Linked DNA regions of Homo sapiens. The protein of the gene in region 1 purifies or fractionates together with the protein of each later gene. This does not show direct contact. Each region holds a gene or a part of one and is shown in the gene's direction. Other genes may lie near its edges.

What was found. Proteins that work in one complex are often made in the same cells at the same time.
Region 2: the proteins of GLRX2 (region 1) and PITPNB fractionate together in Homo sapiens (co-fractionation; one large-scale study listed by BioGRID). This does not show direct contact.

What each region holds. Positions count from the first base shown.
Region 1 is NC_000001.11:193,095,592-193,099,524, reverse strand, and holds the end of GLRX2 (glutaredoxin 2 isoform 2 precursor), read left to right. Parts: intron 1-1,764; coding exon 1,765-1,941; intron 1,942-2,765; coding exon 2,766-2,900; 3' UTR 2,901-3,055; downstream 3,056-3,933. UniProt on the Homo sapiens protein: Glutathione-dependent oxidoreductase that facilitates the maintenance of mitochondrial redox homeostasis upon induction of apoptosis by oxidative stress. Involved in response to hydrogen peroxide and regulation of apoptosis caused by oxidative stress.
Region 2 is NC_000022.11:27,891,361-27,895,570, reverse strand, and holds part of PITPNB (phosphatidylinositol transfer protein beta isoform), read left to right. Parts: intron 1-932; coding exon 933-1,016; intron 1,017-3,240; coding exon of another isoform or gene 3,241-3,399; exon of another isoform or gene 3,400-3,442; intron 3,443-4,210. UniProt on the Homo sapiens protein: Catalyzes the transfer of phosphatidylinositol and phosphatidylcholine between membranes. Also catalyzes the transfer of sphingomyelin.

The sequences.
Region 1 (3,933 bases):
CCCTGTCTCTACAAAAAATATCGAGGTGTGGTGACACATGTCTGTAGTCCCAGACACTTGGCAGGCTGAGGTGGGAGAATCACCTGAGCTCAGGAGGTTAAGGCTGCAGTGAGCTGAGATCGCACCCTTGTACTCCAGCCTGGACGACAGAGTAAGACTGTCTCAAACAAAAACAAAACAAAACAAAAAAAAACCTAGACAAATGTCTGGGTGCTAAATCTATCCATTCAAAATCTTTTGAAGGTCCCAGGCATTCATATGTTTAGAAACAAAAAACAAAAAGAAAAACTTCATAGGCTGCGTGGATGCATAGCAGAATCTCATAGCCATTGTGGTAAAGGCCTGGAAGGTAGTTTTCAAACCAGGCTGATATCATCATTATATGGAGAGGTTTTTTAAACATACAGTTTTCAACTTCTACCTCAAACTCATTGAATCAGCATTTCTGGAAGTAGCTTTTCCTGAATTAAGAGTATGAGAATACCTTATCAAGAGAGTAATGACAGCTTTTGTACTATAAAGGTATATAGGAAAGGATAGAAGTAGAGGGGTAAGCCTTACATTTTAAGAAGAAATCATATACCATTCCTTACCATTGAAAGTTATAGAATAGAAGGTAAGGAGTTAACTCCTGAATACCTACTGAATATTTGAAAAGAAGTATAATGTTTTGGGGCTGGGCGCGGTGGCTCACACCTGTAATCCCAGCACTTTGGGAGGCTGAGGCGGGTGGATCACCTGAGGTCAGGAGTTTGAGACGAGCCTGGCCAACATGGTGAAACCCCGTCTCTACTAAAAAACAAAAATTAACTGGCCGTGGTGGCAGGTGCCTATAATCCTAACTACTCGGGAGGCTGAGGCATGAGAATCGCTTGAACCTGGGAGGCGCAGGTTGCTGAGATCCCACCACTGCACTCCAGCCTGGGGGACACAGTGAGACTTTGTCTCAAAAAAAAGAAATGTACAATGTTTTGGTTTTTTTGTTTGTTTGTTTGTTTGTTTTGAGACAGAGTCCACTTACTGTGTTCCTCAGGCTGGAGAATCACTGGAACCACCTCCCTGGTTCAAGTGATTCTCCTGCCTCAGCCTTCTGAGTAGCTGGGATTACAGGGATGTGCCACCATGCCTGGCAACTTTTGTGTTTTTAGTAGAGATGGAGTTTCACCATTTTGGCCAGGCTGGTCTCGAACTCCTTACCTCAAGTGATCTGCCTGCTTCAGCCTCCCACAGTGCTGGGATTACAGGTATGAGCCACTGTACCCGGCTGAAAAAGGAGTATAATGGAGATTAAATATCTGGACTGTAGAGCCAGATTTGCCTGGGTCTAATCCCAGCTCTTCCACCTATTAGCTGAGAACCATGAACAAATTGTTGATCTTCCTCTGCACCTCACTTTCCTCAACTGTGAAGTGGGGACAATAATAGGACCTACCTCAGGATTGTAGTGAGGTTTAAATAACACAGTGAAGATAAATTGTTGAGAATAGTACCTGGCACACAGAAATGGTTGCTGTATATGAATTGGCTACAATTATTATTTATTGTTATTGCTCTATGCCAGGCACTTTTTGTTATATCTTTTTTCTAATAACATTGCTTTGAAATGAAAAATATCCTCAATCTGCAGATGAGAAAAAATAGATGATGCTTAGTTTGAGCCCAGAATCATGAGAGACCAAAATCCATACCCTTTCCATTATATCTTAATTTATTTCCAAATGGTAATGTCTAGAATTAAAATGATTTTTTGTGGTTTTATTTCAGGAAACAATTTCTGATAATTGTGTGGTGATTTTCTCAAAAACATCCTGTTCTTACTGTACAATGGCAAAAAAGCTTTTCCATGACATGAATGTTAACTATAAAGTGGTGGAACTGGACCTGCTTGAATATGGAAACCAGTTCCAAGATGCTCTTTACAAAATGACTGGTGAAAGAACTGTGAGTATATCCTCTGTGGTGCTGTTCCTCTTTAATAGGTTGTAAACTAGATCACCCAGAGCCTAGAACCTTGTGTTAGGAAAATGAGCCAGACATTCTCTGAGGATAGATAAAGCAGCTGCAGATCTAGGAACCAGATTCTTAGAATAGGAAACAGCAGAGTTGATTTATTTTATTTTTATTCTGTGTGTGTGTTTTGACTGGGGTTGATGAGTAGTGTTATTATGAGTGCTTGTCTATGGATCTTTGAGTTCCTCTTGGAGCTCTTGGCAAGATGAAAGTATTCTTCCTCCCTTTACCTGGGCAATACAGGGGTTGGTCTTCAATTACTTTTCTAATAGGAGTGCTTTAGTGCTCCATGTTTTTAGATTCTTGAAATTTGGATTTTTCCATAATATGCATAATCAGAAAAATGTACAGTGTTGCCACTTTCAAGTTTATTGAAAGTTTATAGTGCACTCTTTCCCTTCAGTAAACAAATGTAAGAAATAACTAAATATTACTGTTTATCTGCTTTAGTTTATTTAAAGCTTTAGTAATCAGGAAGAAAGGTTTTAGAATCAGATTGTTTGGATTTGAATCCCAGTCTGTCATGTACCATCATTGTGATTTTGTGCAAGTTCCTGTGCCTCATTTTCCTCCAAAACAGGGCTAAAAATAATACCTACCTTAAAGGGTAAAGATTTTAAGATTTAATTTGTGAAAGAGCTTTGTGGTGCCAGGCTCATAAAAGTACCCAGAGTTCAAATGTCTCGTTATTATGTGAAATGATCTTAGTTCTGATACTAGAGTAAAGCCTAATTCTTCTTTTGTTTGTCCAACAGGTTCCAAGAATATTTGTCAATGGTACTTTTATTGGAGGTGCAACTGACACTCATAGGCTTCACAAAGAAGGAAAATTGCTCCCACTAGTTCATCAGTGTTATTTAAAAAAAAGTAAGAGGAAAGAATTTCAGTGATGTTTATACTAATAAGTTTGCTAGTACAGTGTCAGTTATTTAAAGTGGTAATGCCCGATAATGTCTTTTAAATGTTTGAGGATGTTTTAAATACATGCATTGTCTTCACGAAGAAGATGTAAAAATAATGAACAATAAATTGCGGTGGAAACCTCTTCTTCCCACTTGCCAATTCTTGAGAAAAAGGGATGGTATTAAAAAAATGAAAGGTTGGAGTTGTATCAAGATAAGAATGTATTTTATTAGGAATTTAGATATGAATTTTACAACCAAGAGCTAGAAGGTAAGCATTTGGAATTCTTTATTTCCTATTCAGGAGTTAACTCTTTATCTCACATAGTTTTTAAGTGGTAAGGACTGATATTTGATTTCTCTTTAAAATTTAAGGCTTTTGCTGATACACTTGTGAACTAGGCAGGAATATCTTATACGATATTGTGAAAAGCCTTCACACTTTGTACTTGTAGAGTAATAGAAGTATATTAAATTTTTAGCATGGAATGAAATTTATCTTAGAGAAACTAAATTACTCATTTAATGACTTAATAGTTCATTAAGTCATTAATGACTTAATAGTTCATTTGTCATTAAAACTATACCTATGGGCAGAAATTAAAAGGAGAAGATTTCGGCATTGTATGAGGATGAACTTTTGAAACAGTGTAGAAATGTACTTTAGTTGGCATGGGATGGTGGCTCACGCCTGTGATTCTAGCACTTAGAGAGGCCAAGGCGCAAGGATCACCTGAGCTCAGGTGTTGGAGATCAGCTTGGTCTACATAGCAAGACCCCCATATTTACAACAAATAAACAAAAATTAGCCTGGTGTGATGGCACATGCCTGGAGTCCTAGCTACTCAGGAGGCTGAGGCAGGAGGATCTCTTGAGCCCAGGAGTTTGAGGTTTTATATATATATATATATATAAATTTTGAGGTTTTTTATATATATATTTTTGGAAAGTAGAACTCTCCACCTCACAATTTAACTTGAGTACATTTCATATATATATACACACACATACACATTTTATA
Region 2 (4,210 bases), on another chromosome or scaffold:
TTGCCCAGGCTGGGGTGCAATCACGTGCTGTCTGCTCAGTGCAACCTCTGCCTCCTGGGTTCAAGCAATTCTCCTGCCTCAGCCTCCCAAGTAGCTGGGACTGCAGGCATGCACCACCATGCCTGGCTAACTTTTGTATTTTCAGTAGAGATGGAGTTTCACCATGTTGGCCAGGCTGGTCTTGAACTCCTGACCTCAGGTAATCTGCCTGCCTCAGCCTCCCAAAGTGCTAGGATTACAGGTGTGAGCCACTGCACCCAGCCTTTATGTTGTTTTTCTTAGTAATCCTCTATAATTTATAATCTAGATAAGATTATTTGGTGTGCATTAATCTGTATGACTTAATCTGATATTTTCAGCTTTTAAATGGGCATATCTTTGGCAGTTTTCAAACAATTCCTAATTAGTTCACAGATGGCATTTCAGAAATAAATGATTGATCAACATGCAGTAGAGAGGAGTTGGCATCATACTGAAACTGAATAGCTTTAGGATAATCAAATTTTGGAGAGATTTTAGACCATACAGTGCATCATTTGAATTCTACTTGTAATGTCACCTTATGTTTGTATAGGACTTTGTTGGTTACAAAGGTTACAAGTACTTTGTTGTGTATCATTTGGATTAAGCATAGGTCTCGTATATTTAGTTACATAAATCATCTGTGAGGACTGTCAGAAGATAATATTGACAGGTTTCTATTCATTTGGCAGCATCCTCATTCTCTCCTTCCTTATTATTTGGGGTTATAAGTGGTAATAAAAGACTTTTAGATCCTGCAAAATGTCAGACAGCTAATATAATGAAATAATAATTTGGGTCTTTTAATTCCCTATAATGTCCCCTGAGAGACTCAAGATAAAGATTATATGTGTAAGCATAATAGAATAATCTACAGTTTGTTTTGTTTCTTTTCTCTTTGTCATTGGTAGGTACATGGTTTAGATCCAAACACATGGAAAACTGTTGAAATTGTCCATATAGATATTGCAGATAGAAGTCAAGTTGAACCAGCAGTAAGTATTACTCAATGACATTTAATCTGTTCCCTTTTACAGTTAAAAATTATTTTCTACTATCACATTTGGGATTAAGTTAAAAAAATTATTTCCTTTCTTTCTTGTATGGCCTACATTTCTATGCCGAAGTGAGCTTGGAGTGAAGTCTAGTACGTCTGTGCAGCAAAGAGACCAGAGTAAGAGAGAAGGCGATTTGTTTTCTGTGTAGATTTTGGCTTTGTGCAAGTGATCCCTTTAAGAAATCCCAGTATACCTGGGAAATGTAGGTTGTTTTCATTGAAAAACAAAAAACACATTGTTTACAAAATAATTCTCCCTCCAGCTAGGTCCCTTTTACTTTTCAAATGTGATTAAGAAAGCAAAAATTTAATTTGCATACAAGTATTTAGTAACTCAGCTACAGTTGTTATTTGTGGAAAATGGTTGGTGTAGAGTATCTTTTTAAAAATGTTCTTTTAGATTCCAGAAGTAGGTGTAGAGTATTTTAATTTAATAGTTGTTTAGCTTTCTATTTTGAATCCTATTAAGATGTAAATATTTCTACTCCTGGCTTTTGACTTAATAAAAAAATTTCTTTTTCACAAGTAAAGATGCTTATTCCTCATGCCAGATTAAGACTCAAGATAAAGATTATATATGTAAGCATAATAGAATAATCTTAGGCTGGACACAGTGGCTTCCACTTGTAATCCCAACACTTTGGAAGGCCAAGGAGGGAGGATTGCTTGAGCACAGGAGCTTGAGACCAGCCTGGACAACATAGTGAGATCCTGTCTCTAAAAAGAAAAAAACGATTAGCTGGGCATGGTGGCATGTGCCTGTAATTCCAGCTACATGAGGAGGCTTAGACAGGAGGATTACTTGAGTCCAGAAATTTGAGGTTGCAGTGAGCCGTGATCGTACCACTGCACCCCAGCCAGGGTGACAGAGCGAGATCCTAGCTCAAAAAAAAAAAAAAAAAAAAAAAAAGGCTAGACATGGTGGCTCAAGCCTGTAATCCCAGCACTTTGGGAGGCTGAGGCAGGAAGATCACGAGGTCAGGAGATCGAGACCATCCTGGCTAACATGGTGAAACCCCTTCTCTACTAAAAATACAAAAAATTAGCCGGTATGGTGGTGGGCGCCTATAGTCCCAGCTACTCGGGAGGCTGAGGCAGGAGAGTGGCATGAGCCCGGGAGGCGGAGCTTGCAGTGAGCCGAGATCGCGCCACTGCACTCCAGCCTGGACAACAGAGCGAGACTCCGTCTCAAAAAAAAAAAAAAAGGAAAAAACAGACCCCTGTCTCATCTTGCCAAAGTTTATGAATATTAATGTGGTTCTTACTTTATAGTGTGCTAAGTGCTGCTTTGGTTTTACACAGCATGTGTAAATACAAGCACTGGTCCTCTTCCTCTAATCTAGAGAGCTAAAGCTTTGGAATAAGAGTGGTACCCTTTGTTTTGTCGTGGTCAAGCACGGTATGTTCAGTAGGCGTCCCTTTCCATTTCTATTTTTGGTGCTTATTCCCTGAACTTGAGCAGTGTTGTAAGTGAAACAGAAATAAGTCAAACGCTAAATGTCTGGTTTTGCTGTTGAAATTTAAAGGTAAACTTGCCTGAACAAAGGTCCCCGACCTTTTCTCAGATGTCACTGGGGTTGAGACTGCCAGCAGTGACCCAGTGCCAGGCTGGGCCAACTCTGCTAGGGCCCCCTTCCTGCTTAGAAGTGTGAGCACTGATAAGGGACTTTTGTTCTAGAAGTTCTTAAATTTTAGTTTTGCTGTGATTCGAAGTTGTTTCAATTTTAGGGATATTTCCACCTTTGACATTATATAGGGAGTTTTTCAATCTGTAGAAATGAAATGATATATCTGTTATGCCCTTTTATTTCTCTTGGTATTGTTTACAGCTAAGATTTACTATATGTGAAAGAATGATGGGAAGAGAAGTAATTGGGAGTAATGAGTGAGTTAGTTAATGACTAGGTCAGGACAGCTTACAAGCCTGGAGCTGCCCATCACTAAAATACCAAGCAGCAGTATGCCACACCAGGATCGGGTGCCCTGGGGAAGGCATTCCCATTATGTTGTTGGTGTTTGAAAATGCTATAATGACCAAACAAAATGGCTCGACTGACTCAGACTTATGGTCCATAGGTTTGCAGTCTACGTTGTTCACCAGCAGAGTACAAGATACCTTTGGTTTTGCTGGAGGCATAAAAATTCTTTGTTCCTGTCCTCAGGCGAAAATGGGCAGTGTTTACAGGCATGAATGCTGGTGGAAAGAGCAGAGTAAGGGCAGATTGCACAAGAACCGTGGAGGCCCTGGTTCCCATCACCTCCACCTCAGCACAGACTTCAGAGAGGAGAGGAGGCACTGGATGCATGACAGCAGCACTTGAGATAGGTGCTCCAGGTGGAAGGCACTGCACATGCAAAGGCTGAGTAGGTAGTTCTCTGTGTGAAAATGGTGATGTTTGGGGTGGATAGCTAGTGAAAAAGACTGGATTGAGCCCAAGTGAGGAGGATCTGTGTTGTGAGGTATGGAGCTTTGACTAAAAACATACATTCTAAAACTAGGTGGGCTTCAGATTTCCATTCTGAGGCTCTGCCACCTACTGGCTATTTAATCTTGGACAAGTTGGTTAGCCTCTCTTTGCCTGTATTATCTTGTGTAAAATGAGAGTAATTATAAGATTAAATGTGAGCACTTAAGAGTATATTAGTCTGTTTCATACTGCTGTAAAGATACTACCCATGACTGGGTAATTTATAATGGAAAGAGGTTTAATTCACTCACAGTTCTGCATGGCTGGGGAGGCCTTGGGAAACTTACAGTCATGGTGGAAGGGGAATCAGGCACGTTTTACATGGCGGCAGGAGAGAGAGGAGGAGGAAGGAGGAACTCCTAAACAGATCTTGTGAGAACTCACTCACCGTCACCAGAACAACATGGGGGAAGCTGCCCCCATGGTCCAGTCACCTCCCTTCCTTGACACATGGGGATCACAGGTCCCTCCCTTGACATGTGTTAATTACAATTTGAGATGAGATTTGGGTGGTAACACAGAGCCAGATCTTATCATACAGCCAGTGTGTAGTTCAGTAAATGCTAGCTGTAATTATCATTATTATTAGCTCCAGTTGTACAAGAGTTCCAAGAGTCTGTGTTCACACCAAGCATTGTCTGGGGACTAAACACAACCTGCGTAT